4 linked regions of the Homo sapiens genome follow. The protein of the gene in region 2 interacts with the protein of the main gene of each other region in a pairwise test. Each region holds a gene or a part of one and is shown on either strand. Other genes may lie near its edges. The genes, in order: RNASEH1, NCS1, C1QTNF2 and MICOS10-NBL1.

Evidence for each region.
Region 1: the proteins of NCS1 (region 2) and RNASEH1 interact in binary tests that used the Homo sapiens proteins (3 or more experiments, as listed by UniProt).
Region 3: the proteins of NCS1 (region 2) and C1QTNF2 interact in binary tests that used the Homo sapiens proteins (3 or more experiments, as listed by UniProt).
Region 4: the proteins of NCS1 (region 2) and MICOS10-NBL1 interact in binary tests that used the Homo sapiens proteins (3 or more experiments, as listed by UniProt).

What each region holds. Positions count from the first base shown.
Region 1 is NC_000002.12:3,555,319-3,563,286, reverse strand, and holds the start of RNASEH1 (ribonuclease H1 isoform 1 precursor), read left to right. Parts: upstream 1-4,953; 5' UTR 4,954-5,026; coding exon 5,027-5,154; exon of another isoform or gene 5,155-5,392; intron 5,393-5,443; exon of another isoform or gene 5,444-5,612; intron 5,613-6,382; coding exon 6,383-6,498; intron 6,499-7,968. UniProt on the Homo sapiens protein: Endonuclease that specifically degrades the RNA of RNA-DNA hybrids.
Region 2 is NC_000009.12:130,231,386-130,237,810, forward strand, and holds the end of NCS1 (neuronal calcium sensor 1), read left to right. Parts: intron 1-1,604; 3' UTR 1,605-5,918; downstream 5,919-6,425. UniProt on the Homo sapiens protein: Neuronal calcium sensor, regulator of G protein-coupled receptor phosphorylation in a calcium dependent manner. Directly regulates GRK1 (RHOK), but not GRK2 to GRK5. Can substitute for calmodulin. Stimulates PI4KB kinase activity.
Region 3 is NC_000005.10:160,367,603-160,374,452, forward strand, and holds the start of C1QTNF2 (complement C1q tumor necrosis factor-related protein 2 isoform 1 precursor), read right to left. Parts: upstream 3,025-6,850; 5' UTR 2,910-3,024; intron 1-2,909. UniProt on the Homo sapiens protein: Involved in the regulation of lipid metabolism in adipose tissue and liver.
Region 4 is NC_000001.11:19,592,915-19,599,978, reverse strand, and holds the start of MICOS10-NBL1 (neuroblastoma suppressor of tumorigenicity 1 isoform a precursor), read right to left. Parts: upstream 3,001-7,064; 5' UTR 2,934-3,000; coding exon of another isoform or gene 2,870-2,933; intron 1-2,869. Other genes in the region: MICOS10 (MICOS complex subunit MIC10), read right to left, coding at 2,870-2,933. UniProt on the Homo sapiens protein: Possible candidate as a tumor suppressor gene of neuroblastoma. May play an important role in preventing cells from entering the final stage (G1/S) of the transformation process.

The sequences.
Region 1 (7,968 bases), on a different chromosome or scaffold from region 2:
TGCCCAGGTGGTGCTTTTGCTGCTGATCCAAGGACCACACTTTGAAAACCATGACTTAGGTTTAGGAGGACGGGCTCTGGAGGCAGGTTTGAGTCCTGGCTGTACCACTTCCTGTCTACATGTCTGAGGACAAGTGACTTAATCTTTACATTTCAGCTTTCTCAGCTATAGACAATATAATATTGAGAGTGCAAATTAGTTCAACCATTGCGGAAAGCAGCATAGTGATTCTGCAAAGAACTTAAAACAGAACTACCATGCAACCCAGCAATCCCATGACTGGGTATATACCCAGAGGAATCTAAATCGTTCTACCATAAAGACACATGCAGGTGTATGTTCACCACAACACTATTCATGATAGCAAAGATGTGGAATCAACATAAATGCCCATCCACAGTAGACTTGACAAAGCAAATGTGGTACATTTACATCGTGGAATACCATGAAGCCATAAAAAAGGAACGAGATCATGTCCTTTGCAGCACTATGGATAGAGGTGGAGGCAAGCTAAGGCAGAAACAGAAAACCAAACACCGCGTGTTCTCACTTATAAGTGGGAGCTCCACAGCGAGAACACAGGGATATTAGGAGGGGAACGGTGGGCAACGGGGCCTACCTGAGGGTGGAGGATGGGAGGAGGGAGAAGATCCGAAAAAATACCCATCGGGTACTAGGCTTATTCCTCAGTGATGAAATTATCTGTACACCCATCCCCCATGACATGAGTTTACTCATGAAACAAACCTGCACATGGACCCTCAAACCTAAAATAAAAGTTAACAAAAAATTTTCCTGACCAACCTCTTCAGGAAGAGGGGCAATCCTCGTGTCACAAGCAATGCCAATAAAGAACAGGAACGCCACCTTTTTCAACTCCTGAGAGATGAATCCAACGTCTGACCCTGCATTGCATGCACTCTCGCCCACGTCGGCTCTCATCCCCACACTCCTCGTTCCTGTCACCGGCCTATGCTGTAAACACCCTAGCAGTCACAATCAGTCACTTATCTGTCTTATGGGTCTATTATTTCATTCTCTGTCCTGCAACCGAAGCTCTGCGTTGTCTTACCCATGTTTAGAACAGCTCCGTTCAATGATGAGAGTCACACAAGCCATCTAAACTTTTCTGGTGGTCACATTAGAAAAGTAAAACAGCAAGAAATAGTTTTATTATTATTATTAAGATGGAGTCTCACTCTGTCACCCAGGCTGGAGTGCAGTGGGACAATCTCGGCTCACTGTAACCTACACCTCCCGGGTTCAAACGATTCTCCTGCCTCAGCCTCCCAAGTAGTTGGGATTACAGGCACTCACCACCACACCCGGCTGATTTTTGTATTTTTAGTAGAAATGGGGTTTCACCATGTTGGCCAGGCTCATCTCGAACTCCAGACCTCAGGTGATCCACCCGCCTCAGCCTCCCAAAGTGCTGGGGTTACAGGCATGAGCCACTGTGCCTAGCCACTAATTTTAAATGTATTTCTTTAACCCAATATATTCAAAATATTATCAGTTCAACCTGTAATCAATATACAAAATTAACAATGTGTTTTAATTTTTTTGGCAGTAATGAATGCCATGTTGGCTTTTATTATTTTTTTTTTCTAATTTTAAGTTCCAGGATACAAGTGCAGAACATGTAGGTGCTATATAGATAAACATGTGTCATGGTGGTTTGCTGCACCCATCAACCTGTTGTCTAGGTTTTAAGCCCTGCGTGCATTAGCTATTTGTCCTACTGCTCTGCCTCCCCTCGACCCCCACCCCTCTTAAAATTCTTTTTATTTTTCACACTGAGTCTTCAAAGTCCGGTGTGTATCATACAGCACATCTCAATAGCCACATGCAGGCAGGGCGCGGTGGCTCACGCCTCTAATCCCAACACTTTGGGAGGTCGAGGTGGGCATTGGACGATGCAGGTCTGGACAAGTGCCTGGTATATTGTGGGCACAATTCTTGAATGGACCCTGAGAAATAAGCAGAAATGGTTTTGTTATTCCTAATTTACAGAGTATAATAGATAATGGCAATAGTGACTTTTATTTGAGTTTATGTCATGTGTCAGGAATAGGCTATGCATACATTTATTATTTCATCTAAAATCTCATCCTCAAAACAAAAGCCTTTTGCAGTGGGAATTATCACTCCCATTTTTTTTTTTCAGTAGAGAAAATTAAGTTTCAAAGGAGCTAAGTGACTGAGACCACATATACACTCATCTTCTGATTTCTGATCCAGTGTTTGCTCAGGATAAGAAATGTCCTATATTTCTATGAGCCAGAGATTAAGATAAAAAAAGATTTTCAGGAGTAACCAGTCAATGAAAAGTCAAAATAAATAGTTTTGGCAGCCGGGCGTGGTGGCTCATGCCTGTAATTCCAACACTTTGGGAGGCCGAGGTGGGCAAATCACTTGAGGTCAGGAGTTCAAGACCAGCCTCACCAACATGGTGAAAACTTGTCTCTAAAAATACAAAAATCAGCTGGGCGTGGTGGCGCATGCCTGTAATCCCAGCTACTCGGGAGGCTGAGGCAGGAGAATCGCTTGAACCCAGGAGGCAGAGGTTGCAGTGAGCCAAGATCATGCCACTGCACTCTAGCCTGGGCGTTGGAGTAGGACCCGGAAAAAAAAGAAAAGAAAATAAAGAAAGAAGAAAAGGAAAGAAAAGAAAGAAACAAGAAAAGAAAGAAAGAAAGGAGAAAGAAAAGAGAACAAAGGAAGAAAAGACGAAAGAAGGAAAGAAGAAGGAAGGAAGGAAGGAAGGAAGGAAGGAAGGAAGGAAGGAAGGAAGAAGGAAGAGAGAGGGTTTTGGCACTGTGGAAAGTCATGTGGATGATCCTGCAAGCGTCCTCAGGTAATTCCAACCTAGGACTTCTCAGGGAAGATGAGTCCTTGTGATACAGGACCAGCCAGTGGGCACAGAAAAGCAAGCCCTTGGTAGGTCAACCCTCAGATATGCTGACGAGGTGGGGGCAGCTGTCAGGTCATCCTGAGAGCCTTCCCGGGCATCTCTGGGCTTCCTCAGATATCTACACAAGGGTAGGATGATCAGTCATAAATGGACTTTAGGGACAGCTGTGTGTGTCTTTTTATTTTAAAATAAGAATCCGTCTTGAAGTGCAATAGGTAGGAATGAGGAATGAAAGCTATGGCCAATTTAAATTAAAATTAGGAAAGCTGAAATGTTTAAAATTGATGTTCTTTGGCCAGGCACAGTGGCTAATGCCTGTAATCCTAGCACTTTGGGAGGCTGAGGCAGGCGGATCACTTGAGGTCAGGAGTTCGCAACCAGCCGGGCCAACATGGTGAAACTCTGTTTCTACTAAAAATACATAAAAATTAGCCAGGCGTGATGGCGGGCGCCTGTAATCCCAGCTACTTGGGAGGCTGAGGCAGGAGAAATGCTTGAACCCGGGAGGTGGAGGTTGCAGTGAGCCCCAATCGTGCATCGTGCCACTGCACTCCAGCCTGGGCGACACAGCAAGACTCTGTTTAAAAAAAAAAAAAAAAAAAAAAAAAGATGTTCTTCGATTTCACAGAGGAACACAACTTACCACGCCAATGTACGCGTCGCTTTTGCCTGGGCCGTTCCTTCTTCCTAGAATGTCCTGCTTCTTTCTCTTTGTCTAACTCATGTGAATGAACTTTTTAAAAAATTAGTATCCTTCAAAACTGTATTTGCTCAGGCGTTCTGATGTGAGGCCCTCCTGACTCTCCAGGTGCGGGTGCTTCTCTGCTCTGTGTCTCTCACCTCCAACAGCTTGTTCTGCCTGCGCACTATTTGCTGATGTGTTATCTCCGGGGATTCTCGAATTTCTCACCTTCATCCCCAAGGCCTGACAAAATACATGGCAGGTGTGCAAAAGGCTTGTTAGAAGACCTTAAGAAAATTAAAGAAAAGTGGTTTAAAAATAATTCGAATAACAATGTTTGCCAATGGAGACTTTTTTTTTTTTTTTGAGACGGAATCACGCTCTGTCGCCCAGATGCAACCTCCACCTCTCGAGTTCGAGCGCCTCTCCTGCTTCAGCCTCCTGAGTAGCTGGGATTACAGGCGCAGGCGACCACGCCCGGCTAATTTTTGTATTTTTAGTAGAGACAGGGTTTCATCATATTGGCCAGGATGGTCTCGATCTCCTGACCTGGTGATCCACCCGCCTTGGCCTCCCAAAGTGCTGAGATTACAGGCGTAAGCCACCACGCCCCTCCAACCCATGAACACTTTTAAAATTACTTGATTTGCTTACAGAGCAAAAGGTCAAATGGGGAGAATTCTAAAAGTTACCTTCTCAACTCAGTTTTCTCCCGGGTCGTGGTGCTTGAGGCACTGGATATCCCCTGGTTAAACACCCACGTGCAGTGGAGCAGGGAGGGGACGCGCCCCTTCGGGGGTGGGCGCCCAAGGCAAGGGGAGGAATGCGGCTTCCACGGCCTCCCCTCTCGCCCTCCTTTGTGCTTATTCTAATTCATGAATTCTAACATCTTTCTGCCCACTAAAAAATGTGCATTCATTCATCTGGCCACAGCCCTTACTGTAGATCCGCATCCCTGGAGCTCTCGAGGAGCCGCGGTTACCGCACGTGGGTGCCGGGCGCCAGGGGGTTCAAGGGCTTCCCGCGGTGACCCGAGCACGCCGGGGCGTGGCCCCCGAACTGCGGCCTGGGGGCGGGGAGAGAAGGGGCCCAACATGGTCCATCTCGACCTTCCTCTGCCGGGCCCAGGGCTTCAGCCCCGCTCCCATAGGCCCCGCCCCATCCCAGACCTCGCCCGCCTTCGGGATCTCAGCCCTGGCTCCGCTTCTTCAAGTACCGACAGGAAGTTGACGAGTTCGGGCTCGTCAGGGGCCGAGCTCCGGGCTCCGCCCTACGACACCGCCCCTCCCTAGGCCCCGGCCCTCATCAGGACTCCGCCCAGACGTGCGTCATCTTCCCGCGCCGGTGACGGAAGTGCGGTGTTGAGCGCCGGCGGCTCGCGCCCACGCTGGGCCGGGAGTCGAAATGCTTCCCGGTGCCGGGAGTGAGCGATGAGCTGGCTTCTGTTCCTGGCCCACAGAGTCGCCTTGGCCGCCTTGCCCTGCCGCCGCGGCTCTCGCGGGTTCGGGATGTTCTATGCCGTGAGGAGGGGCCGCAAGACCGGGGTCTTTCTGACCTGGTGAGTGGCCCGCCCGCCGAGGCGCCTCCCTGCCGGCATCGGGGTCGAGGGAGGCCGGAGCCCGGCTAACCCCGGCGGCGGGAGCCTGGCGGTCCGAGTCTGTGCCGCGCGCTGTGGCTGTGGGTGGTCGGGGGACCGCCTCGTTTTCCTGCTCGGCCGGCGGGGTTCCAGGAGGCTCATGGCCTGGGACTGGAACGCACCGAAGACTTGTTTGAAATATCAGAAACGTCGCGTAAAGGTTAGGGGTGGCCTAATAAACCCTGTGTTTAATCCTCCATCTTTGTTGCAGTTAAAGTGCAACAAAAAGTGACACGTAATCAGAACGAACCCCCGTTACCAGAAGACTTTCCGTACCAGCTAAATTGGGATTGGAACTCAGTACCTAATCTTCCCTTTTAAAAAAGGCAAATTCTAATAAGCCAGTATTTGCAGTTGGATCCTTGTAACAACCCTTGGAGGTGAGAGGGATTATTCTCACTTTCAGGTATAGTTCTTGGGGTCAGGAAGTTCCCAGGGCATGTAACTGACAGAGAAAGGACTTGAGCCCAGCTGTTCTGACTGTACCACCAGAACTCTTCCCACTACAAGATACCAAAGTTCGTTACCTGTGTTTCCCCATGCACGGCAGCTACAGTATTGAGGAAGAAGCATCTCAGAAGTTGACCTTTTTGTTGTAAAGAAATGGTTAATATTTTTTTCAAAGACCGCAGTATTTTGTTATGCTTTGAGTTTGACGAAAGCCTTATGGTGCTGGTGTGCTGGCTGGCTGGCATACAGTAGAACACAGGTGTAGAGTCTGACGTGCAGGATAAAACTATAAGGTGCGACTCTGCCCTTTTCACGCAAAAATTGGTCCTCTATATCCAGTTTGCATCCTCAGTTTCAGCTAACCATAGATCAAAAATATTTGGAAAAAATTAAAATAGAATACAGTTTTAAAATACGCATAAAAAGACAATACAACTATATAGATTGTATTAGGTATTATAAACTAGAGATGATTTAAAGCATGCAAGAAGATGTGTGTGGGTTATTTGCAAATACACCATTTTATGCAAAGGACTTAAGCATCCTCTGATGTTGGTATCTGTGATGGGGTGGAGGACTTCCTGGAATCAGTCTCCCTCAGATACCAAGGGACAACTGTATTTCCAACCTTAAGAATCTCAATAAAAAAGGGGATAAGTTAGAGAAGGAAGAAGGAAATAACATTGCACATCTTTTCCAGGAATGAGTGCAGAGCACAGGTGGACCGGTTTCCTGCTGCCAGATTTAAGAAGTTTGCCACAGAGGATGAGGCCTGGGCCTTTGTCAGGAAATCTGCAAGCCCGGAAGTTTCAGAAGGTAGTCACCTCTCATATCAGTGTGACATTTTAACCTATTCAAAGGCTTTCATATGCCAGATGGCATTTGATCTATATAGCTACCCTCTAGGCATGTAGGGAACCTCGTGTGATTGTTTTCATTTTACAAATTAGGGAACAGACTGAAAGCAGTTACAAATAGTGGTTCATATTACTTACAGTATTAGGGATAAGCCAGGACTCAGCTCTCCTGTTCCATTCAGCCTTTTATGCCATAATTCCTTGTCTTTTTTTAAAAAAATACTTGTCCAGCCTGGCCAACATGATGAAACTCCATCTCTACTAAAATACAAAAATTAGCTGGGCATGGTGGCGCACACCTGTAATCCCAGCTACTCGGGAGGCTGAGGTGGGAGAATTGCTTGAGCCCGAGAAGTGGAGGCTACAGTGAGCCGAGATTGCACCACTGCACTCCAGCCTGGGTGACAGGGCAAGACTCGTCAAAAAAAAAAAAAAAAAACTTACATAGTTATTGGACTGGATGGGCTACAGTTTACAGGAATGAGTGTGGTTCTTTCCATGGCATGCCCCTTTGTGGTGTTGCCTTTTTATTGAGAACAGAGTCACACAATCTGAATTTCTTCTTTTTTTTTTTCCTTGAGACAGAGTCTCTGTTGCGCAGGCTGGAGTGCAGTGGCACAATCTTGGCTCACTGCAGTCTCTGCCTCCTGCGTTCAAGCGATTCTCCTGCTTCAGCTTCCGGAGTAGCTGGGATTACAGGTGCGTGCCACCACGCCCGGCTAATTTTTGTATTTTTTTTAGTAGAGATGGGATTTCACCATATTGGCCAGGCTGGTCTTAAACACCTGACCTCAAATGATTCACCTGCTTTGGCCTCCCAAAGTGTTAGGATTCCAGGCATGAGCCACCACGCCTGTCCAATTTCTTCCAATTTTATGTGTTATAGAAAGTACGGTTATTCAAAGTTTAAAGCCCAATATAAGATTAATTCCCAATATAATTGGAAGTTTAAAGCCCATTATGCAGACTCAGATGAGCAGGGTGACGACTTTAGAGCGCAAGATTTTAAAAATATTTCTGGATCTACACTGAGGAGGTGATCTTACGTGAATGTTACTTACAAACTTTTTACTATAGCAAATTAAGACTGAGCAGAGCATAGTTTTAATTACCTTATCTTGAACAGCCTCTCTAGAGGCCACTGAGATGCTTGAACCTGAACAACTGCTCCTTCGAATCATCGTAACAATCCTGGACAAAGCACAATTCAGAGCGAGGCAGGTTGTGTCCAGAATGGATCCCTGAAGAGTTAGTTTGCAAAGCAGGGTCGACCCTCACTCAGTGCATCTGCTTCACCCTCTCTCTCTTCAATAGCTTTTAAAGGAGATTCTGTTTGAGAATGAGGACACGTGAAAAAGGCTCATCGATGTGACAGTTCTTACTGCTTACTGCATGACAGCCAATAAGCTGAGAGACAAGGTGTTGGGGC
Region 2 (6,425 bases):
TGTATTTATTTTTTTGAGGTGGAGTCTCACTCTTTTTGCCCAGGCTGGAGTGCAATGACGTGATCTTGGCTCACTGCAACCTCTGCCTCCTGGATTCAAGCGATTCTCCTGCCTCAGTCTCCTGAGTAGCTGGGATTACAGGCACACACCACCACGCCCAGCTAATTTTTGTATTTTTAGTAGAGATGGGGTTTCACCATGTTGGCCAGGCTAGTCTCGAACTCTTGAACTCAGGTGATCCGCGTACCTTGGCTTCCTAAAGGGTTGGGATTACAGACATGAGCCACCTCACCTGGCCTGAGTATGGATTTTTGGTTCTTTGGGTATATACCTAGGAGTGGAGTTGCTGGGTCATATGGTTAACTCTATGTTTAACTTTTTGAGGAACCACCAAACTGATCTCCAAACTAGTGACAGCATTTTGCATTCCCACCAGCAAAGGACAGAGGTTCCAGTTTCCCACATCCTTGCCAACGCTTGTTATTTTCCATGAAAAAAAAAAAAAAGGTAGCCATCCTAGTGGGTGTGAAGTGGTTGCCTCACTGTGGTTTTTTGTTGTTGTTGTGGTTTTTGTTTTTTGAGACAGGGTCCCACTCTGTCTCCCAGGCTGGAGTGCAGTGATGCAATCTCGGCTCACTGCAACCTCTGCCTCCCAGGTTCAAGTCATTCTCCTGTCTGAGCCTCCCAAGCAGCTGGAATTATAGGTGTGCGCAGCCACGTCCGGCTAATTTTTGTATTTTTGGTAGAGACCGGGTTTCACTGTGTTGGCCAAGCTGGTCTTGAACTCCTGGCCTCAAGCGATCCTCCTGCCTTGGCCTCCCAAAGTGCTAGATTTACAGGTTTGACCCACCACTCCTGGCCCTCCCTGTGGCTTTGATGTGTGTTTCCCTAATGACTAGGGATGTTGGGCATCTTTTCATGTGTTTATCGACTGTTCTATGTGTTGTTTTTAATGGTTTGTAAACTGTTTTATCCTGTGGGTGTGTCCTAATGTATCCCACCACTCCTCTGATACTGGACACTTAGATTGTTTTCTCTGCTTCCATTTTTGTTTTCTGTTTTCTGCTATTACAGATGGTGCAGTGGTAAACATTTATTTATTAAGGATAAATATAGGCTGGGCACGGTGGCTCACGCCTGTAATCCCAGCACTTTGGGAGGCCGAGGCGGGTCTATCATGAGGTCAGGAGTTCGAGACCAGCCTGGCCAAGATGGTGAAACCCTGTCTCTACTAAAAAATGCAAAAAGAAATTAGCCAGGCATGGTGGCGGGCGCCTGTAATCCCAGCTACTTGGGAGGCTGAGGCAGGAGAATCGCTTGAACCCAAGAGGTGGAGGTTGCAGTGAGCCGAGATTATGCCACTGCACTGCAGCCCAGGTGACAGAGCAAGACTCCAACTCAAAAAAAAGCAAACAAAAAAAAACCAAAAAACCCAAAGGGTGCCTCAGAGGTTATGCACATTTTTAGGACTTCTGACATAGAATGCCAGCTTGCCATCTATCGACCTTCCTGCCAGCTCTCTGTGCCTATCCTCCGTGGCCAGACCTTAACCCCTATCCGCTGTGGCTGGATCTTAACCCATCTTGCCTCCTTGTGTCTTCCAGATGCCTGGGAACCACTCACCTCCTTCTGTGCCATGAGGCCACCTCAGCCCTGACACCAACCCCGTGCGTCCACCCAGCCTTCTTCCGCATCCACACACAGCCGGCTGCCCTTGACCCGGGAGGCCCCGGCTCTCCTCTCCCCTGTCCTGCACCCATCCCCCGCCTGAAGCCACCGGCTCCAATTGCCAGCAACCTCTGCTTGTCCGGAAAACGACAACACGAAATGGAAAAGGCTACAGCCCTCTGCATAAACCAAGGACTTGGCTGCCTCGCAGGCAGCCTCCGTTCCTCCCGCTCTCTTGCGCGTGTGCTTTTGTTTTTTATTTTGAACAGACGTTTTAAAAGAAAAAAAAACAACTACCTTCTGTCCTAGAAGACACAGACTGACAGATGGGGTGAAGGCCTGGGGACCTCAGAGAACTCTGCCTTGCCCTCGTCCCTCGTCCTTCGGCAGCCGGAGAGGCTGTGGGTGGGCCGAGGGTGTCTAGGGGTTCTGCCTGGTCAACGTTATTTGTCGTCCCATCTTTTGGCAGCAAAACCACCTGCGTGGCTAGGATGATTAATTATGAGGATGATGATTTTTTTTGTGATAACAGTATTGTGCTTTTTGTGGGGAAAGTGAGGTTTTTTTTTATATACATATATAATTGATATCTTTAATTTATTGGTTGTTAACTGTTGCTGCTGCCTGGTGTGTCCTCAGCTCCCAGGGCTGCGGGCCCACCGTTTACATGTGCACGCCCTGACCCACCTGCCCACGCCGACTTGGGAGGATGGTGGCCTGCAGCGGCCAAGAAGCCAAAAAAAATTTTTTTTTTTTCAGATACTGTGCTTGATTTTTGGAGAGGGGAGAGGTGGAAATTCCTAAATGGCTAATGCACTGTTCCCTCCAGCCCGAATGCCTCCTGCCAAACCCCTTTTCCCTGCTGCCTCTGTCCCCGCATCCTTGTTCTCCCCTGGGTCCGTAACATTTTTTCCGAGGATGAACAGGGGACATCTTTAGGTTTCTCAACTCTTGCTTTGGTGTTTGCCGCAGCATGGAAAACAGGGCGCCTAAGGCTGGGAGCTGGAAGAAGGGGCATTGGGTACCCAGGCAGAGTCAGGAGAGGTGGTCTTTGAAGTAAGTTAGCAGAAATCAAGGGGACCCCCGCCTCCTTGGGCTGGGGAGGGGATTTCAAGATAGTTCATGACTCTCTCCCGCTCTGCCTTCCCTCCTTCCTATCTGCTTTTTCCAGTAAACTGCATGGTGTCCTTCCCTGGCCTTCTCTTGGCTCAAAGGCTGGGAGGGAGGGAAGGAGAGAAGAGTTCCAGGCAATCCCATCAATATAGTCCCTACACCTGGGGCTGCGGCCCACATGTCTTCACGGAGGCTTCCAGCGGTGCCTGCCACTGAGGCAGGTGCGGCCCCAGGACCATCACCAGGAATGCGAGGCCACCCTGGACCAGAGGTAGGAGCCCAAGGTCCGGCCCTTGCTCTTTGATTGTGGGCAGCCTCCTGCCCTCTCTGGGTCTCAGTTGCCCCATCTGCAGAGCGAGGAGGCCCGGGCTGGTTGGTCTTGAAGGCCCTTTTCCATGCCGACATCATGTCACTCTAGGCCTGGGGTTCAGTTTCCTGTGGCTGGTGATGCTGTGGTTAAGTTTGCTTGACCCCAGCAGCCCGAGGGACTGTCTGAGTCACAGCACAGCCCCTATTGCGTGGCTGCTGGTGTGTGGGGTCAGTTCCAGCAGATGAATGTGTCATGTGGCACACCTTGTCCCTTCCCGCAGCATTTCCTGGTTCCCCCCAGACCCTTGAGCGCTCTTTGGGACCCAGAAGGAGTCCTTGCACAGGGAAGGCTTGAGGTGAGAAGCCGCTTCCCAGACTGTCAGGGCCAGGCCTGGGTCTAGAATTCTTGCTGCTGCTTTGCAGAGTCAACAGCCCATCAGCCCATGTTTTAGAGGGGACACTTTGGTCCTCGGTTCCCACCCTCAGCAAGCAGGCCTCCAGCCCGAGGAAGGCCTCTGCCGTAGTGACGTTGCCGTGTGGGGCTGCGTGGCTGTTCCCCTTGGCTGGAGCATTCAGCCAACCCCAGCGTCCCCCCTGAGGCGTTCATTGGCAGCCCCCTAGGACTGCACGCTGGCCCCACGGTAACCCCCCCTCCCCCACCAACATCCTGCAGGGATGGGGTCAGTGGTTCCACCTTCACAGGCCACTTTGAAGGGTGGATTCTTTGAGGCCCCTGCCAGTCGGCTCCCTGCTCAGCTGCTGGCCCGGGCGACCTGGGACTCAGCACCAACGGCTGAAGTTTCTCAGCTGGGCTCTGACCTGGGGTCTGGGGCAGGGAACGAACATGGTGGCTTTGGGCTGAGAGGATGAGGGAGGTCTTTCCCAGGTCAAATTACTTTCCTTTGGCCTCTGCCTGAGGCTCGATTTGCCTCTCTGGTCCAATGGGACTGACACTGTTGTACAACCTGACCTGTGGCTGAGGGTGTCTGGGCTTAAGCATGTGGACCCCTTCGGTGTGTCCGGCCTTCCTCCATCGTCCTGCCCTTTGGCCTTTTGGTTTGAAGCCACAGGTGTGGCTTCTGGCCTTAGCAGATGGTATGCTTGCGGACCGCAGCCCAGCATGCCGGTGGGCCCACAGCCCGAGCCAGCCCAGAGCTGCCGGAAGGGCCGCCCTTCCCGGCCCTGGCGGGGTGCTGGACACTGGCCATTTTCACTAGAGTTTGCCTGGCAGGGACCGATCTCTGCCCCCTCCTCTCCCCAGGCCTCTGGCTGCAGTGATGCCGCAGAATCCTGAGCCAGGTGCCTCCTGAGCAGCCCGTGCGCCTCTCCACAGCGGCGTTTGCCACCCAATGCGGCTCGCTTCAGATGCTCTGATGCAGAGGGCACGCCCATAGTCCCTCTGCAGAGCCTCGCACTGGGGCCAGGGCAGGCACCAGCCCCAGGCGGCCAGTCGGCCACGGCCTGTCCTCTTCCTCGTAGCGTCTGCTCCTCACTTTGTGTTGATGGTGACTTAGGAGAATGTTCCGATTTTCCATGATCTAAGCAGGCCACGTTTAAAATAACATCAAGGCAAGCGTACGTGTCACCCTCTGTACTGACATCTCTTCCCCTGAAATGCTTTTCAGTTTGACAGCCCGTTTCCTAGACAAGTGCACCTGGGGTTTCAGGAACTTTGTGTTTTTTCGGAGGGGGTTGGTGGGGAGGTCGGGATGCCTGGGATCCCTTCCTGGAGAGGCAGGCTGTCTCTGGAAAAAGCCTCCATTGCCCACCCGCCAGGCGGAAAGTCACCCTGTTCCCAGCGCGGTTTCAGCATTTAATTTTAAGGGAGCTAAGGAAGCGCGGCGCGCCCCCTGGTGGTGGTAAGCCGCCAACGCACCTGGGGGCTGCAACCCCACCGGACGGGTGGTCCGGAGGGAGGCTGGAGCGGGGAGGCGAGGAGGGGGCTGTGAGTCCTCAGAGGCCCTGGGCCACCACATTTCTGGCAGCGTTTCCCAGACACCCCTCTGCTAGGCCATCCCTGGATAGCAAGTGAATTAACTTAAGGGCACTGTGATGGGAAGCCTTGCCCCCCTCTTTTTTTTTTTTTTTTAATATCTGCGGAATAAACCCAATGGTTAATTTTTGAATGAATAAAAGGCTTTTGTTGAATAAACAGCTGGTCCCATCTTCTGTCTTGGCATCTTAGCATCCAGGCTCAGGCTCTGCCCCTTCTCCAGGATGGGGTAGCCCCGAGTCGCCCTCCCCAGTCTGCACATTCCCTGTTGTCCCTGTTCCTGCAGTGGCTCCCGGCCCCAGGGAGGCCCACCTCACTCCCAGCCTGACTCGGTGGCTGGCTTCCTTCAGGACTTTGCGCAAGTCAGTTCTGCTCATTGGGTCTCAATTTCCCCATCCCTTGGATGGGAGCAAGAGTCTCTGCTGGGCCTGCCTCGCAGGGGCCTGGTGAGACCCAAATGTGAGTGTCATCATCAAAGCCCCTCACAGAAGTGGAGGACGGTGCCCAAGAGTAGCGGTTTGGACTGCTGCTGCCTCCCACCCGGAGCCTGCCACTTGGGGGAGAAATTGGTATAATGCTTGCAAAAACAAACAAACAAAAGGCAATGTCTTCTGGTTGTGGTTATTTCCTTTCCTGCTTGCCTCCCCAGCCCCCTTTGAGTCTCTTTTTGGGGTGCCGTCCTGTCTGAACCTGCCGGTGTGTGTCTCTGGGGCCAGGGTCAGGGCGAGGCCCAGGGGTGGACAGGGGCCGTGTAGCATGCCCCAGCCTCCCCAAGCTCCTGCTGTATGTCGTCCATGTCACGCCAATTAAACACGCTTCCTGGACTTGTCCTCGCCTCCCTGTGTGGGCCTGTTGCTTTGTCTGTTTACATTCTTCTCCGTTTCGTTTTAGGTTTCTTCCCTTTGTGACACCCTTTCTCTGGCTTTGGGTGTTGTCTTCCCAGTTTCCTGAAGAGAAAGAATGTGTAGGCCGGGTGCAGTGGCTCATGCCTATAATCCCAGCACTTTGGGAGGCCGAGTTGGGCGGATCACCTGAGGTCTGGAGTTCGAGACCAGCCTGGCCAACATGGTGAAACCCCGTCTCTACTAAAATACAAAAATTAGCTGGGTGTGGTGGCAGGCGCCTGTAATCCCACCTACATGGGAGCCTGAGGCAGGAGAATCACTTGAACCCGGGAGGCGGCGATTGGAGTGAGCTGAGACCACACCATGGCACTCCAGCCTGGGTGACAAGAGCGAGACTCCATCTCAAAAAAAAAAAAAAAAAAAAGAGAGAGAAAGAATGTGCAAAGTGAGAACCTTGAGTATACTTTTAAACCAGAAAAATCTGCAGGAGTGTTTCT
Region 3 (6,850 bases), on a different chromosome or scaffold from region 2:
ACTCAGAAGAAACCAACACTGCAGATACCTTGATGATGGGCTTCCAGCCTCTAGGGATCGTGAGAAATAAATGTCTATTGTTGCAGCTCCCCAGTCTGTGGTGTTGTCACGGTGCCCCACGCTGACTAGGACAGAGAGCCTGTGTTCTACAGTGTCCACAGTCCTCACCACTCCCAAATGTCATGCATCCCATTCCTATATACATTGTGCACAGTCTCTGTCAGTATCTGGGTTTGCAACCCCTAATCTAGAGGAAAAGAGTAATGATTCTCCATGTATGTTGTGTGTTCTTATTTCAAAGTTTTGATGTTCATATCTCCTTTAAATCTCCCCACACTTCTAAGAGGCTGATACTGTCATCTCCACTTGGCAGAAGAGAAAACAGAGCTCAGAAAAGGGAAAAATTACTTTTCCTAGGTCAATGTTTGGGTGGAACTCAGGCCTGCTGGCTCAGGGCCCAGAGCTCATGTTCCTCCACCATGGCCCCTCAGCTAACAGGGGAGTTACTAACAGGGCAGTGATGTGTATGCGCATGTGTATGTGTGTTATAGGAGTAAGCCACTTAACAGAAGTGAACAAATCCAGGGGAAGGTTATTTGCTTGAAAAAATATTTGGCACATAATTCCTTTCAAAAGAAAAGCTAGAATGGGCTGGGCGCGGTGGCTCATGCCTGTAATCCCAGCGCTTTGGGAGGCCGAGGCGGGCGGATCACAAGATCAGGAGTTTGAGACCAGCCCGGCCAATATGGTGAAACCCCGTCTCTACTAAAAATACAAAAATTAGCTGGGTGAGGTGGTGTGCGCCTGTAGTCCCAGCTACTGGGGAGGCTGAGGCAGAAGAATTGCTTGAACCCAGGAGGCGGAGATTGCAGTGAGCCGAGATTGTGCCACTGTACTCCAGCCTGGGCAACAGAGCGAGACTCCTTCTCAAAAAAAAAGAAAAAAGAAAAAAAAGAGAAGCTAAAATGGAATATAACTAACAGAAGTTTGATTTATGCAAGAGTTCATCTCACAGAGGTAAATTAAGGTTGGCAGGCCTTTGACCAGGAAGAAGGAGTGGGTGAAGCTGTGGGTGTGGAGAGAGACTCTGTTACCCCACAGTGAACATTTAGGAGTAGGAAGCATCAGTGATTGAGACAGCAGGAGAGACTGTCTGATCAGCAGGGTCAGCATAAGAGAAGGAATAGCGAGACAGGGGGGAGGAATAGGGAGATTTGCAGAGGAAAAAAGTGACACCTTGGAGAACTTGCTGAACATTCAATGGAGACAGAGTGGCTTCAAACGTGACTCCAGCCTTGTGAAAAATAATCTCAGTTCATCCATACAATGACACACTATGCCCATTAGAAGAACAAAGTAAGCCTGTATATGCAGATATGAAAACATGGCGAAGACACACTGTTAAGTGAAAAAAGCAAGTTGTACCATGGAATGTAAAGTATGCTTCTCTTTGAGTTTAAAAAAAAAAAAAACAGCACAAATACAGAGTATATATATGTACAGAAGGGTTGGGGAAATACTTTCCGAAAAGACACAATCTTGTTAAGGGGTTACCTTTCAGAATTGGGAGGGGGTGTGTGGGCTTTTACTTTTCTCTTTCTACCTTTTTGAACTGTTCGAATTTCTTGTGATGAGCGTCGTTACTTTTATAACATTTAAAACAAAAGGTAAACCTAAGGTTTAAGGATTGGAAGACTGGTAAGTGTGGTATCCCTGCTAGGAGATGGGGAGAAGTCAGACATTTGGGAGGAAACAAATTCTGCAGTGAATCTGATGTGTTACAATGAAGGGCTGTAGTGATGCTTGGAAATGTGTGGAGAGTTTGAGGATCGGGCAGTTGAAAGCAGGAGTAATTGATATAATTACTCCAGATGACAGAATAAATTAGAGAATGGTGCAGAGGGAGGGCAAAAATAAGGATGTGAGAGGACAGATTTTTAACAGTGCTAACTGAGCACCAGCCTTGGATTGACCTATGTAAGACATTGTCTTTCTATTACTGCTACTTCAGCATGGTGGAAACACAGGGTCTCTGAGAGATGGCCAGTCTAAGGAAGGGACCTCTGCAGGCTTCCAAGCAGGGCAATTTTGTGGTCAAGGAGCAGAGGAGGATCACAATGAGGTAATGCAAGGGACTCATGGTGTCAGAGGAGAGACCTGGGCTGGGAGACTATTAGGGCCCACTGCAATTATTTAGCTGAAAAGCGAGGTCCTAGAATGGGGCAGCAGCAGTGGGGATGGAGAAATAAGGACAAAGCATATTAAGACAAGTAGTTTAGGTGGGGAAGGAGAGTGAAGAGAGTCATGAGGCATTGAGTACAAATCTCTGCCTGCCGTTCAATACCTTTTGAGCTCAGTTTGCCAGTCTGTATCATATATTTAAATAAATGTGAAGGTTAAGTGAAATAATGCATTCAGTAAATGTTAACTGTGATTGTTAGCTCGGGTATTGGACTCAGATTTACCAGACTTCAAGTCCCTTTTTTATCAATTACTAGCTGTGCAACCCTGTCCAAGTCATTAATGTCTCTGAGCCCAGTTCCTCTTTTGTAGACGGGGATAATCTGTTGTCATGAAAATGAAAGAGCACAAGTAAAGTGCTAGCAGGACTTGGCACAAAGTAGGCGCTCAATAAATGGCAGAGCTACGGGTGTTACTATTGTAACGGGTAAACCACTGGGCACAGAGCCTGGCACACAGTAAGGACTCAAAACATGTTAATTTGTATTATAATACGAAGGTAGAAGTCGAGAGGCAGGAATGCAGGAGCTGCCCAGCCCGCAATAAAGGCGCGCTGGCAGCTCTCCCACCTTCCGCATCCCGCCCCGCCCGCAGCAGTGCGAGTCCTCCTCCTCCTCCTCCCCGCGCGCACTTGCCGCCCCCGCCCGACCGCGGTGCGGGACACTCACCCTCGCGGCTGCCCGCCACGTCCAGGGGCGTCCGGAGCAAAGAAGCTCTCGGCGGGGCTCCGCGTCCCGGCTTTCCTCAGCGGCAGCAGCCGGGCAGAGCGTCGGCCCCAGGCATAGTTTTCCCATCCCGTCATGGGCGGGAGAGCCTTCCTCCCGGTCACGTGGGCTGGCCCGCAGCGCAGCATTCTCTTTTTAGCAGCTGTTTGGAAAAAACTTGCAGTGCTGATGACAACTCGGGTGTGTCGATGCATCTCTGCGTTTGTAGAGCTTGTTAGCGTATTTGGAGGTTTTGTGCGCCAGAGTGATCAGAGTGATTGTTTCCCACGCGTTTGCAAAGGTGTGCATGTACTTGAGTGTGATGATAAATCATAGGGATGTGTTTAGTTGTGTGTGTGCGTACGTGCGTTTATCCAAATTTTCATCAGGGCTGTTCGGTGTATGTACACATGCATGCACATGTCCAAGATGGCAGCTTGGTGTAAAACTGGAGGGCACATCAGTGGTTGGATGTACACGATAGTGGCTAGACATCTGTATGTGGGGTGCATGTTTAAATGTGTGTGTGACTGTGCAGGGGCTCATTCTGTGTGTTGGTTTGACATCTGTATGTGGGGTGTATGTTTAAATGTGTGTATGACTGTGCAGTGGCTCATTCTATGTGTTGATTTCTATGCATGCCTTGGTGTGGATTTTGTCCGGATGTGAGTGTGCACATACACACTAGTGTGGGTGAGTTCCCCTGTGTACCAGCTCTCATTTCTCTTCTCCCCAGAAGGTGAGGATTCACTGGTCTCACTCACTCTGGCCCAGCCTCAAGTCATTGAGAGACTTATGGAGGGTCTCAGCTCCCAGGATAGGCAAAGCAATCCTATTTGGGAATCAAGCAGGCACTGGAGGAAAGGAAATCCTCCAAGGCCTGGCTTTTGCTTCTCCCTGTTCCTTCCACTGCTCTCTTCCACTAGCTACCCATATTTCACTCTGCACAGCCAGAGCATCTGGTTAACAGCTGGTAAGTGACACAAAATTTACAGTCAGAATTTTAATACAGATATGCATTTGAATTCTAATGTTGTATCCACCACCTTAATCAAGTCAGATAATCTCACAGATGGTGTTTTATTTTCTAAAAAAAATGGGAGAATAATATTACCTGCACTGCCTTTACCCCAAAGTTGGGACACTAACTCATAAAGATGTTTGGTAAGCCATTGAACTATGTAGGGAATTATTACTAATATCACATAAATACTATTTGAGAAAGAAAGTTTGTAGGCTTAACAAACATTCATTCAACAAATATTTAATAAGCATCCATTGTGTGTCAGTCCCCAAGCAAGGTGCTGGGGACATAGAGGGAAACAAATAGGCTTGATGCCTACCCTCATGAAACTTAGAGTCCTCCAGCTGGGGATGACACAAGTGGTTACAAGTGAAATGAGTGTTATAGAAAAGAAAAGCTTAAAGTATAAACTGGGCAGTCAGGGGAAGGCCTGGGAAACTGATGTTTCAGGTGAACCCTGAGAGATGACTGAGACTTGTCTGAATGTAGGGGAAGTGTGAGCTCAAAAAATGAAGGAATGATAACATGTGGAGTGGAGTTTAGGGTGTTGATACACAGATGGCTGGAAAGGAAACTTCCATCCACCGCCTCTTGGGTCAGATGTGTCAGCAATTGGAAAGGTGAGGAAACTGCTTAGAATGCCTGGAGGCCATTCAGAATCTAAAGGGCTCAGGAAAGCCCCTCTCCTAGAGTAGAGTGGTAATATCTGTGTGTTATCCATGTGGCTCCATCATGACAGAGGTTGAAATCACTGGCATGCTCTCATTGGTTAAAAAAAAAAGGTTAATGAAAAGTTAAGAAAGGCAGTGCTGCTATACCTGGTAGTGTGAAACATTTAATAAACACTACTGATTGAATGAATGGGGGCACATGTTTTTCCAACTTTTGAAGGATACCTGGAACCTAGGTTTCCTGAAGCCTAGCAGAGTTCCTGGGTCCCTGTCCTATGGTTCCTTGCAGTGGTGATGGCTTCATGTAGCATGCAATCCAAAATACTTGTCCGGTGGCAGTTCCACGAGCTGCAGGAACTGTGTCAAGCTAGAATGGGGCTTAGAACTTCCTCTCCCTAGCCTCTCTCTGTCTTTACTCTCTGCTTGAATTCAGTCTACGAACATTTGTTTGTTTGTTTGTTTAAGATGGAGTCTTGCTCTGTTGCCTAGGCTGGAGTGCAGTGGCACAATCTCAGCTCACTGCAATCTCCACCTCCCGGGTTCAAACGATTCTCCCGTCTCAGCCTGCCAAGTAGCTGGGACCACAGGCGCGCAACACCACACTAGGCTAATTTTTGTACTTTTAGTAGAGATGGGGCTTCACTATTTTGCTCAGGCTGGTTTTGAAATCCTGGCCTCATGTCATCCAACTGCCTCGGCCTCCCAAAGTGCTGGGATTACAGGCGTGAGCCATTGCACCCGGCCACAGTCTATAAACATTTATTACCTATTATGAGTATGGGGACAAAGAGATGAACTTCTGAATGAGAACACAAATTACACCAGGAGGCAAAATACAATTAAGTGCCATAGGAAAGGTGCAAAGTGTGAACATGAAAGAGGAGGATTTTCCCCTTCGATTTCATTCAATTCATTTCACATCCATTCACATCTAGAGAACATGCTAGTATCCACCTAGAGAAGACGAATGATATTATGACATTGATGGCCACAGAGCGGGGCAGCCATGAGGCAGATGTGGCAGATTGGCTTGTTCCACAATTGTCCAAACTTTTCTTGGTGTGCTTTCCTATACAACAGAGACTAGAAAGCTAAAAATCCATTTCCTAGACTCCTTGCTGTTGGGGCTCCCATTATAATTTAGGTTTAGCCAGTCCTGTGCACCTGGGAAAGACCTGAATTCAAAATTGTGTTCAGAAAAACAAAAAACAAAAACAGTTATGTGAAGAGGAGGTAGCAGCCTGGGAGGAATCCACTTTGCTGGTGGTGACCTGGAAGATGCAGTGTGACTCTAGAGTTCTGCCAGTTCCTGATCCCCAGATTACACCTAAGATGTTGTGTTCTTGTAGTCAGACTAGGCCAGTCGCCGGCCTCCTGATTGTGGCAGAAGGCCACATCCCTTGGGGTGGTGGGGTTAGTACGACGGCAGGTTTTGGGACTCATTCCTGCAAGCCCAAGCCAGAACTTGTTCTGCAATGGTTCTGAGTCTATTTGATTCTTTTTATTAAATTCATGTCTGCTTAAAATCCTAACTGACATGTCATGTTATGAACTATAGGTGCTGTGAAAGTCAGGGAAAGGAGATGAGTGTGGATCAGAACAAGCAGAGAAGAAATCTAGAGGACTGCCTTCTTTCCTCTTTCTATCCACCTCCTATGCTCAACCCCATTTCAATCCTCCCATCAACCTTCAGATTAATCATTGATTAAATATCAGCAACTACAATGCACCAGGCACTCTGCTTGATGTTGAGCTCACAGTGATGAATGAATAAGGAAGGTCTCTCCTTATGAGACAGATGTGAAACCAGCAACCAAATAAACATATAATTCAAAATTGTGGTGAAAATAAGAGGGAAACATGGGAAAGAATAACGGTATGAAGTCTGTGAGATAACCTACTTTGATTGAAAAGTCTAGATGATCTCTTCAGTAGGTGATATTTAAGCTGAGTCCCAAAGGATAAAAAAGGGCTAGTCATACAAAGGTAGCCAAGGTGAGGAGTGGTGCCAGGCAGAAGGAGCAGGGTATGTACAAGCTACCTTAGTCCTTCTAAATATCTTTCTAATGCTTCCCTGTGTAACAGAGGATAAAGCCTAAACTCAGCCTTTTTTTGTTGAGGGGACTGTCCTATGCATTGTAGGATTAGCAGGATCTCTGGCCTCTACCCACTAGATACTACCTACTAGTAGCAGCCCTCCTCGACCCCAG
Region 4 (7,064 bases), on a different chromosome or scaffold from region 2:
TTGTTGCTTGAAACCATCCCATGATTACCCACCAGCCTATGCCTAGTGAGCCCTGGAAGCAATAGATTTTTAAGGCAGAGGTGCTGAATACGCAGAAAGCATGTGAAAAAGTCAACAGGCAACTCAAACACCTCCAAGATAAAATGGAATCTCTCTAAGACATTTCACAGTTCTGACTCCACCTAAACCAGCCTCTCTGCACTGAAATTAGGATGCCTGGGTTCTAATCCCAGCTCCTCCACTTCTGGATATTTAACCTCTCTGCGCTTCGATTTACTCCTCATAAAAATCCAACTTGACCTTTGCTTAAGTTCTTCTTCCATCCTACCTGACTATTCAATCCCAAGCCATTCTACAAAGGTCAGTTGAAGGCCCTTCCACACTCTTATTGAATGACCTCAGCCCATCCCTTCAGTCACTTAATATACAACCCTACAGCAAAAGAGTCTGAATCACTCATTTTAACTTATACCTGAGATCGTACATCACCTTGCCTCATTTAATTACTCCACATGTATATGCTGCACCCCTATCAACGTTCTACGCATGAGAGACAGAGTGACACTATTCACTGCCTCACGTGGTCTTCAGTAGCACAATAATATTAATATCAACAACTATTGGCTGGGTGCAGTGGCTCAAGCTTGTAATGCCAGCACTTTGGGAGGCTGAGGATGATGGATCACTTAAGCCCAGAAGTTTGAGACCGGCCTGAGGAATATGGCAAAACACCGTCTCTACCAAAAAATACAAAAATAGTTGAGCATGGTGGCACACACCTATAGTCCCAGCTACTCAGGAGGCTGAGGTGGGAGGATCACTTGAGCCCAAGGAGACAGAAGTTGCAGTGAGCCGAGATCCCACCACTACACTCCAGCCTGGGTGACAGAGCGAGACCCTATTTCAAAAAATAAAAAACAACTACTATGAGTGTGGCGCATTGGCTCATGCCTGTAATCCTGGCATTTTGGGAGGCTGAGGCAGGAGGATCGCTTGAGCCCAGGAGTTAAAAGACCAACCTGGGCAACATAGGGAGACCCTGCCTGTATAAAAAAAATAAGTTAATTAAAAATAAATATAAATAAAATACATTAAAAAATTTTAAAAGCCAGTTATTATGACTACCATTACTGTATACATAAAGCACCAGGCACTGTGCTAAGTAGCTTATGTATTTTTCTGTCCTTTACTTTTTTTAATACTTTCAGGTAAATCTCTTTTGATCACCATTTCGTAGTTGAGAAAGAGACTTTACCCAAAGCTACAAAATTAGTAAGGATGGGCGAGAAGAGTGAGAGTGGATGATTCGAACTCAGCTCTGTCTACCTCCAAAGCCCCTTCTTCTTCTTCTCCTTTTTTTTTTTTTTAAGGGAAGGGTCTCACTTTGTTTCCCAGGCTGGTCTCCAACTCCTGATCTCAGGCGATCCTCCCGCCTCGGCCTCCCAAAGTGCTGGGATTACAGGCCTGAGCCACTTCGCCCAGCTCAAAGCCCTTTCTTAACTATATGACATTGCCTAGTAACTACTTTGGTCATTTCATAGCTAGGTGTTAAGTCTTCTCTCTGAACTGCAAGCTGTTAACAGTAACAAAACAAAAGTGACTGTTTAGTCGCTTCCAAAATAACCCATTCCTAAGTGATCCATATTCAAGCCTTTAAACAAACTAACTCATTTAATCCTCCCAACGACTCCATGAGATAGTAATAATTATTACTGCCGATTTCCAAATAGGAATCAGGCACAGAAAAGTTAAATAACTTGCCCCAAATCACTTGACTGTAAGTGCTGAATTCAGAGGTGAAATGGTAACTTATAAACTGTTTCATTTATTGACTCACTCTCAACAATTTTTATTAAGCACTCTTTTAGGGGCTGGGGATGGGGCAGTGACTAAACCAGAAAACATCCCTGCTCTCATGGAGCTTACAATCTTATTCCTCAATGTTTTCATTCAAAGACACAATCCTAAATCCTCTTAAATACCCTAAGATTACCACACAAAAATATCACATTTGGGTAACAAAAATTAGCATCGAAGAAGGAACATGGGACTTGACCCCAGAAAAGCTGGGTAAAATCCCTAATTTTGCCATTTGTTAGCTGTGACCGTGGGCAAATTCCTTCACCTGACTCTCCATTTCACGGCCTGTAAAAAGATTATTTCGCACAATGAAGACAATATACGCTCAATAAACGAGTTTCCTTTCTCCTCCCCACCATACAGTGACTTCATAATTTGTGCCGTCACTGAGCACGTGTTAAAGGACTACGCAGAAAAACTTAACGTGAACAACTTCTTACTTTCCAGCGCAATTCTCATTCCAGATCATCACCCCTCTAAGTTCAGGCCCCAGACTACTCTGATTCAAATAAATCAGGTGGCAAGTCGGGAATGACAGCAACTCGCATCAGGGCCTGGCGGTGTCTATGAAATGCTCCAGGTGACCTTCTCCAGAAGGCACTTTGGTTTCCGCCGGGGAGCAGCGTGGCCTCCTGAGCCGGTTCCCCGCCGCGTGCCGGGGAATGCACCACCCGGGAGGAGAACCCCGCGGCTCCGGCACGAGGGTGTGCCCCGACACTGTCTTCCACTCAAGAGCTCTGCGACTCTCCTGCCACCTGCCAACCCCGACCACCTCCTCCGGGCTGCAACTCCACCCCGCACCCGGGCTGCTGCTCCGGCTCCTCGGGTCTGTGCCCGCCGCCCGAGTGACCTCCCGCCGGGGCCCGGGCGGCTCGCCCTGGCCGGAGGGGCCGGAAAAGGCCGAGAGGCCTGACCTCCCGTGGGGCTTCCCTTCCTTCCTCCTGGGCAGCGCAGCCTGGAGCCAGCAGCTCTGCACCGGCCGGGCCTGCTGGGGCGAAAAGCCCCTTACCTATCTTCACGACCGCATCCGCCAGACACCGGTCCCACTTCCTGCCGAGCTCCGACTCAGACATGTTCCCCACCCGCGCCTCCAGCTTTCCTCTCGGCCGGCCCCCGCGCTCCGACCCCTGAAAGTCTCGCGAGAGCTGGAAACAAGTCCCAGGTCAGGAAGGCAGGCGCAGACGCTCCAGATATCGCGAGATGATCCGCTGCTTCCATCCCTTCCGGTTTTTTCAGTTGGTCGTCAAGGTGACGAGTTGTCTGGAGGCTCGAGGTGACCCTGACCTTGGGGCTGCGCCTATGGGTTTGCGAGGCTGACAGTTTCCTAGGCGTCACCCCAAGCCGTGACCAGGCCTTTCCTCCTCACCAAAGTGCGACATTGGCCCTGGAAATCCCCCGGGCAAGAGAGGGTACAGACTTGATTTATTCATTCATTAACGTACTCACCTTCACTTTCCCTACTCACTCTCTCATTCGTTCACTGGTTTCTTGCATTGGAATTCCCGCCTGAACCACTAACACCGAAACTGCTCTGGGAAAGATTACCTACCGCCAAATCAAATGGACTCTTTTCTGACCTCTGTACCGCATTCCACACAATTTTCCCTCCCTCTGATCCTCCCTGGCTCCTCTATTCGTTTCACTCCCGGTAACGCCACTCTTTCCTCTTCTCCCCATCTGCTGTTGTCTGTTGGTTTCCTCCAGGGCTGCCTTTTCTCTGCCAGCTGTTTAAGGACTGTTGGTTCGCAAGCTTCCATCAATTCTCTTTTCACTGTACAGACTCTCCCTGAGTAATTGCAAACACTGCCAAATTATATCTCCAGGTAAAACGTCTACCTCAGGCCTCCTATCCATGTATATATTTACACACCCACCCACACACACACACACATACACATACATACACAGGGTGCCCTCTGTATCTGTGGGTTTTGCATCCATGGATTTAACCAACCATGGACCAGAAACATTTTTGAATCAAATAAAAAATAATGCAAAATTTAAAATACAGTACAACTATTTACCTAGGATTTACATTGTATTAGGTATTATAAGTAACCTAGAGATGATTTAAAGTATATGGGAGCCAGCGCAGTGGCATGCGACCGTAGTCCCAGCTACTTGGGAGGCTGAGATGGGAGGATTGCTTGAGACTAGGAGTTCGACTTCATCTCTTTAAAAAAAAATAAGTAATTTTAAAAAAGGATATGTAAGCATGTGTGTAGGTTGTATGCAAATACCACGCCATTTTATATATGGGACTTGAGCATCCTGCATTTTGGTAACTGCGAGATCCTGAAACCAAATGCCCACAGCTATCAAGAGAGATTGTATATCCAGCCTACTGGCTAGTGTCATTGATTTTAGTCTTCCATCCTACCAACAAATAGAAATCTGACCACGTTATGCCTCTGATTAGAAGCTGTCAATGAAGGCCGAGAGCAGTGGCTCACACCTGTAATCCCAACACTCTGGGAGGCTGAGGCGGGAGGATTGTTTGAGGCCAGTAGTTCAAGACCAGCCTAGGCAGCATAGTGAGACTCCTGTCTCTACAAAAAATTTAAAAAATTAGCCAGGCTAATGTGATGTGTGCCTTTAGTCCCAGCTACTTAGGAGGCTGAGGTAGGAGGATCACTTGAGCCTGGGAAGTGGAGGCTACACTGAGCCATGTTCATGCCACTGCACTCCAGCCTGGGCATCAGAGTGATACCCTATCACAAAAGAAAAAAAAAAAAAGCTGTCAATGACTCCCATTCATACACTGGATCTATCCAAGCTTCAACACTGCACTGATTCTAGGAAGCCTAGTCAGATAGAGCTTAGAGCTGCCTTCCCCTTCTCATTGTCCCACTACCCTGCCTACCCGCATTGATTTCTCTATCTAGTACTGAAACATCTGGTTGTAGATATTATCTGCTAGTAGAACTAGAAGTTGCCCCTTCGTCTTCATACTTCCAGTCAGAGCACAATGCCTTGGATAGTAGGGTCTTCTATGAAATATTTGTTGAACTGAATTGAATTTATTCACCTATTTATTTGTTTATTTATTTATTGAGAGAGAGTCGCGCTCTGTTGCCCAGGCTGGAGTGCAGTGGCACGATCTCGGCTCACTGCAACCTCTGCCTACTGGGTTTGAGCAATTCTTCTGCCTCAGCCTCCAAAATAGCTGGGATTACAGGCGCCCACCACCACGCCTGGCTAACTTTTTGTATTTTTTTAGTAGAGATGGGGTTTCGCCATATTGGCCAGGCTGGTCTTGACTCCTGGCCTCAAGTGATCCACCCACCTTGGCCTCCCAAAGTGCTGGGATTACAGGCATCGTTCAACTATTTATTTGCAACTATGACAGCAAAACTCTGTTGTATCAGATCTTGCTACGACAGCCTCTTCCTTCAAGATAACTTCTATGACCACCCTTCCCTTCTCCTAGTTCTCTATTTTTTTAAATTATTCTTTCTTTTTTTTTTTTTTTTTGAGACAGAGTCTTGCTCTGTCACCCAGGCTGGAGTGCAGTGGCATGATCTTGGCTCACTGCAACCTCTGCCTCCCAGGTTCAAGAGATTCTCCTGTCTCAGCCACCTGAGTAGTTGGGATTACAAGCACGTGCCACCACCCCCAGCTAATTTTTGTATTTTTAGTAGAGATGGGGTTTCACCATGTTGGCCAAGCTGGTCTTGAACTCCTGACCTCAGGTGAACCACCCACCTCAGCCTCCCAAAGTGCTGGGATTACAGGCTTGAGCCATCATGCCCAGCCCTATTTTTCCTATTCTTTAAATTTTTCTTTGCTTTTCCTTTTTTATAGAGGTGAGGTTTTGCTATGCTGCCCAGGCTGGTCTCGAACTCCTGGGCTCAAGCCATCCTCCCACTTTGTCCTCCCAAAGTACTAGGATTATAGGCCTGAACCACCATGCCCAGCCCCTTCTAATTCTCATCACAGCTACTTATCAGATGATTTGTGTTTTTAATAATTGTTTGTAATTTTAACAATTATTTGTGTGTCTTTTGGATTTTGACTGTGAGCAAATTGAGAATGGAGGCCGTGCCATTTCTGTATCCCTAATGCTTAGCAGAGAGCTTGGTATATATCGGATTCTCAATAAATGCTTGTCGAATGGACATAAAAATTAATAAATAAGGCCGGGCACGGTGGCTCACGCCTGTAACCCAGCACTTTGGGAGGCCGAGGCGGGTGGCTCACAAGGTCAGGAGATCGAGACCATCCTGGCTAACACGGTGAAATCTTGTCTCTACTAAAAATACAAAAAATTAGCTGGGCATGGTGGCGGGCGCCTGTAGTCCCAGCTACTCGGGAGGCTGAGGAAGGAGAATGGCGTGAACCAGGGAGGCAGAGCTGGCAGTGAGCCAAGATGGCGCCACTGCACTCTGGCCTGGGCGACAGGGCAAGGATCTGTCTCAAAAAAAAAAAAAAAAAAGAATAAATATATGAACAAATGATTTAATTAATCAGAAAGAGAAAAAGTCCCTGTTCTGGGGAAACTGTGTAGTGTAACATTTCTGTTGAAAAAGAAAGAAAATAAACTTCACTAAAATACCTATCACATGGCTGGGTGCAGTGGCTCATTCCTGTAATCCACTTTGGGAGGCCGAGGCAAGAGGATCACTTGAGCCCAGGAGGTCAAGGCTGTAGTGACCGTGATGGTGCCACTGCACTCCAGCCTGGGTGACAGAGCGAGACCCTGTCTCTAAATAAATAATACCTATGGTGTGTCATAAATAGCTGCAGGCACTTCGCATAATTTCATTTATTCTCACAGCAGGTCAAGATTAGCATCTTCGTTTTCAGATTTGGAAACTGAGTCTCCGAGAAGTTAAGCAACACAGAAGATGCACAAAGCTCCACGTTGTGTAGATTTAAAATTGACAAAGGCATTTTTATTGGATTCAAGAGAGTTGTAAACTCTTGCAAAAGGTAGAGAGCAAATTACAAAAGCAATCAGAGGCAGATGTGATAGCATGAATCTGGAGCCAGGCTCTCTGGGTGCAGATCCCAGCTTTCCCATTTCCTAGCCTTCTTTCTATTGTTCTGTTTTCCCACCATTCCTTCCCCAATACAATGTTTTGTTCACTGCTATATCCCTAGCCCTATAAGATTATCTCACACATAGTGTCTGCTTGATAAATATTTGTTGGTTGAATGAATAAGATGAATGAAAACTCTGGAGTTTTTGTACTTCTTGAAGA